Regions from separate parts of the Homo sapiens genome. Here region 1 is linked to region 2. A link means that fine-mapping ties the variant in region 2 to the expression of a gene that starts in the linked region. Tissue or cell type: whole blood. Region 2 holds a variant in brackets; the other region holds the start of a gene. All regions are shown on one strand. Distances are from middle to middle.

Region 1 (2,615 bases), 120 kb before region 2:
CAGCCTTTAATAGTGATAAAGTTTTTACTATAGTAGAAACTTGTGATTCTTTCCCTTTTCAATAAGGAAAGGAGATTACCGCCAGGAGTGATTTGCCACTTATTGCAGGTTTGCCAATTTTGATTCATTAACTGAACCCTCTTGCAGATTCAGGAGATAAAAATGCGGAGTGCCCAGTTAAATTTGAATTCAGATAAACACCAAATAATTTAGTATATCCCAGATATTTCATTTTTAAAATAATAAATGTGACCCATGCAATATTTGGGACATACTTCACTATTTGTATCTAAAATTCAAGTTTAACTGGGCATCCTATATTTTATCTAACAACCCTACTGTAATTGGTTTAGGTTGCTCTTTAATGCCTTTGGTTTGCTTTCAAAAATAAGTAGTCTCAAAACAAAGCATCCGATTTCCCAGTAGTTAGAAGAACTCAATACCGGTTCCGAAGCTTCTTCAATTAAAAACGTGCTTCAAAAGAGAAGCCAATTCTGTGGGAGATACTTTCCCAAAAAACTCGGGTTTGGGCCCCTATACCGTGAACTACAAACCTCCGCAGGGGTAGGCCCGGGCTGCCCGCCTCACACCGCACTCGCCAGCGAGCAGGGGCCCGGCACCGCAGCCCGGGGCAGAGGCCTTGGAGGTTGTGGAGGTGGGAGAGGCCTCGGCCGACCCGCTTCAATCCGTCTTCTCCAAGCTCGGTGGGGAAAACAAACTTCCTGAGCGGCCCTGCCCCCTCCAGATGCCGGACGCTGTTTTCGTCTCATCCCCGTCTGGGTTGGATGGCGAAGACGGCGCTCAGAGCACGCAGCACCGGGAATTAACAGCGAGTTTTGAAATCTAGAGCTCGCAAGGTGTGCGTCGCCTGCTGCTGTTCATTCCAGAGGGTCTTCTGCTGGAGAAGGAGGGGGCCCTCGACCTCGGGCTCCCGCTCTCGGGCTCCCGCTCTCTCGCTCTCTTTTTTTTTTTTTTTTTTGGTCGGAGGAAAGAAAACAGCCCTGCGCCCGGATGCGTAGAGAGCCGACAAGTGGAAACAGGGACACACCCTCCCGTGAGCCCGCCCAAGCTGGAGCCGCGGCGCGCTGAGCGAGCAGGCGGGGCGGGAGCGCCCACAGCTCGGAGCCACCAGGCGCTGACGAGGAGCCCGGCTGAGGGAGGATGCGCCGCTGACGCCTGCGGGAGCCGCGCGCCTGGGGCGGGAGGATGCTCCAGAGGGGCCTCTGGCCGTGGCGCACGCGGCTGCTGCCGACCCCTGGCACCTGGCGCCCAGCGCGCCCGTGGCCGCTGCCGCCTCCGCCCCAGGTAAGAGCGGGTGCCGGGCTGTGGGGGTTCGGGGTAGGCTGGTGCAAAGTTTGCGTTGGACAACTTTGGCGGGAGCAAAAGCCGAGCGGCCGAGCAGTCAACTGCGTTTTGCTGGCTGCCGGGCTCCGCGCGCCGGGCGGTCCCGACAGGTGGTGGCCGGGCGGCCGACGTGGGTCACGGAGGCCTGGGCTGAGGTCAAGACTCCGGGCCCGGGGAAGGTGAAGCCAGAGCGCTGCGGCTGGGGGTGCCTCACCCGGGCCGAGATAGGGTGCGGGGACCACCAGACTTCGGCCTGGGAGCAGCAGAATAACCTGGGAGGCAGTTTCTGGGCTGCAGCTCTCGGTCAGGAGCAAGTTTCCAAAGCCGCTGCGCCGCGGGGCCGGTTCCCTCTTGGTGATCAGTGCCCGAGCCCCTAAGGAGCCCGGAAACGATGAACGGGGCAGTGACCGTCCCGGGTGTGGACGGTCGCAGGAGAGTGAAATTTCCATCCTGAAATCTGCGAGCACCTCCCTTTCCCAGAAGGAAGAAAAACTCGCGTTTTGTTCAGACACCCGAGAGACGGGTGAATCATGAGTGTGCTGGTGAGTAACAGTTGGCCTGACACCGTTGTATTGTGGTCTGTGGAGAACCGTGGCTTGGAGGAGTAGAGAGTGGATGTGCACCAAAAAAGACTAGAAGAAGGGGAAAGCGCTGAGTTTAAGGAGGATTGCGATGGAGCCTGACAGGAGCCCGGGAGTGCAAACTCTGACCCAGATGAGGAAAGACAGCCAAAGCCTTCAGGGTGTGTGTGGTTGGGGAGGGAGCTGTTTCTGAGTTTTCGTTTGTTCCTCCCCCACACTGTTAAGATTACTTTCAGATTGTTAAAGGCTTAAAAGCCAAAAAGTAAGCAGTGTGATTCTCTTGTCACTTTCACTTCCTGTTTATTTTGTTCTTTTTTTTCCTTCCCCCCCTTTTCCTCCAGCTGTCTGAGGGCTTCAGTTTCAATTGATGCAGGGAATATTTAAGTGCATTTTTTTTTCCTTTTCATTGAGCTTGTGACCAAAGGATTAAGTGCATTCAGAAAATCAATTCCAGGAATGTTTGAAAGAGAATGAGGAAGGCCATGTTGTTACTAAATGTAAGAACAGGGGCAAACTCCTTAAAATGTAAAATGGTAGACTTATAAAGTCATTGGGGAGATGGGCTTTTTATACTTTTAAAGGTTGTACTTTTACTGTAAGTGTTGCATTGTGTAGTCAAAGAGATACCAAACATTAAAACAACCCAATACGAGGAACCCCTTTCACATGCCATTTTAAACACAGATTATT
Region 2 (2,500 bases):
CCCAACCCGTGGGTGCCTGGCTCTGACTTGCATCCTGTCATAAGGTATGAGAAGTTTATTTCTCTTCTGGATAGGTACCAGTTAACAAACCCAGATGGCCCAGTAACATTAACCAACTATCCACTTTTTGTAAATTTTCATTTCCCTGACTCTGTTCAAGCCCCTGCTGTTCACCCTGCCCATTCTGTCATTCTTTCTTTAAAACAGTCATCTCTGCACAAATTGAAGTTGAGTTCAGTTCACGCTGGACCCTATTGCAATAGTTATTAATAAAATTTACCCTTGCTGTTTTAGTGCCTAGCTTTGCCTATCTTCCATCTATGCCTTTTCTCTGTATGTATATGTTTTATGTACCAATACATTTTTCATTAACAAAAGGACTCTGACTCTTCTACAGATCTCAAAGCCTAAAAGAGAACACCTAGCTTTCACCCCTCTGTGGCAGCTATAGCCTAGACTATGGAAGGGGGTAAAGACCACAGCAGTCTTGAATTGGGTAGTGATGGAAGAAAAATAACTTCAGGACTACTGACACAAACTGGAAAACTTACTGGGCTGATACCAACTCTAGACATATGTCTCTCTTGTCTGCAGTTGTTTGCTGCTGCCTGGTGGGAAGGTCCATCTTCCCTTCCTCTCACCTTGTCCTCCCTCAGGTTCTCTTAACAGTGATAATGAACAATTACAGCTCTCAGAAGGGTATCAATCTGAGGGACTTCTCATAGCAGAGCCTAATTTTATATGGACTTATAAACCCATGGAGGAGGTGGGATGAGGGAAGTCTATAATCAAGAGAACTTTATATTAAAAACTCTGAAACCGTAACTCCTGTAAGAGTTGAAAAATAATTTTCCCTTTACTCTTAGTTCTTAGCTGGGATGGACCCCTGTGATAAGAGAGATTACTAAGAAGAAAACAAACAGTAGTTTATTAATGTGTATATTCCATAGACACATGGGAGGTATCCAAGGAATGAGTAATTCTCAAAGAGGTGGCTCTGAACCTCAGCTGATAGAGCATCTTCTACAAAGAATAATACATTTTTAGAGTTGTGACAAGTCAAAGGAAAAGGTCCTTGAGTCTCTGGGGTCAGCAAATTGTGGAAAAGCAAATAAGTTGGTTAAAGGTAGTCAAAAGCTACTAAAGTTTGTCTGTAGATTCCTCTGGTGCAGTCTCCAAGCTGAAAAGGGTCTAAAGTTGTCTCTGGCGATCTACCTTTGTTCTTTCTGGTAGAGAGTGTTACCGGGGGTCCTTGCTCCCAGAACTCCCAAGATGGTC[G/A]TGGGCCACTTCCAAGATGATGGCAAGCCTCGTGTTCTCTGACCTGGGGTTCTTGGCCTCACGGATTCTAAGGAACGGAATCTTGGGCCATGCAGTGTTACAGCTCTATTAGAAGTCGTGGGTCACGGAAGACAACCATGGAACCCAGTGACTAGTGTTCAGCTCAATTAGGACAAACCCAGGCACTTAGCCGTGCAGGAACAAATGGCAAGCCTTTAGCCCGATCTGGAGCGGCAAAGGGGTGCCTCGCTGGATCAGGAGCACAGTGGACACCCTGCTGGATCCGGAAGAATGTAAGTCAGCAGCGAGTCTGCTACGGCGGCAAAACAGCAGTGGTGGACAGTGAGCGAAAGCTCAGCTCGAGCAGTAACAAACACGAACCAGAAGAGTGCAGTTTCAAGATTTAATAGTGTGAAATAGAGTGAAAACAGAGCTCCCATACGAAGGGAGGGGACCCAAAGGGGGTTGCCATTGCTGGCTCGAATGCCTGGTTTTATATCCCGATCCTTGTCCTTCCCGCTGTGCTCTCAGGCAATAGATGATCGGCTATTTCTTTACCTCCTGTTTTTGCCTAATTAGCATTTTAGTGAGTTCTCTGGTTGGGTGTGAGCCAAGTTGCAAGCCCCGTGTTTAAAGGTGGATGCGGTCACCTTCCCAGCTAGGCTTAGGGATTCTTAGTTGGCCTAGGAAATCCAGCTAGTTCTGTCTCTCACGAGGTCTTTGTAAAATTTGTGTCCTGCTTTTGGGCAAAAAGGGAGAGGCCAGAGAGCCTTTCTTGTAGCTGCTTATGCTCAATTGCCTTCAGCTGAAAATAATCCTTATGCCAAAGTCATTTTTTTGGTGACTTTTTTTTTTTTTACCTTGTATATGAACTGCTCTTCAGATCCACACTTTGTTGTTTACTGTGACTCTCTTTGTTGAAAAGTACACTTGAACTGCTTTTCAAATGTATATTACACCTTTGTTTACATGTTTGTACACCAGCTTCCTTACCCTGTGGATCCTAAGATAATATTTGGAAAGAGAATTGGGGACCGAAAGATTTACACACCCTGCGGGAACAATGTGGTGACTGGCTTGTTTCCCTTGTGTCTTTTCTCAGAAAAACCAAGTAATGAGCACACTGCTGAGATGGAACACATGAAATCTTTGGTTCACAGACTATTTACAATCTTGCATTTAGAAGAGTCTCAGAAAAAGAGAGAGCACCATTTACTGGAGA

The links. PIP is the estimated chance that this variant, and not a neighbour inherited with it, causes the effect.
Region 1: MCUB starts here. The variant in region 2 is fine-mapped to the expression of MCUB in whole blood (INTERVAL, PIP above 0.99).

The regions. Positions count from the first base shown.
Region 1 is chr4:109,559,132-109,561,746 of GRCh38, forward strand. MCUB (mitochondrial calcium uniporter dominant negative subunit beta) reads left to right here and starts at 1,115. Exons shown (of 8, transcript NM_017918.5): 1 at 1,115-1,305. The coding sequence starts at 1,207. RefSeq lists a silencer at 1,062-1,381 and an enhancer at 1,802-2,001.
Region 2 is chr4:109,680,202-109,682,701 of GRCh38, forward strand. It overlaps MCUB (mitochondrial calcium uniporter dominant negative subunit beta), which reads left to right. Exons shown (of 8, transcript NM_017918.5): 5 at 2,381-2,500. It also overlaps a transcript of CASP6 not described here. Among named protein-coding and RNA genes, the nearest start is that of CASP6, 22 kb to the right of the region's middle. The variant G/A (reference allele first, on the strand shown) is at 1,279.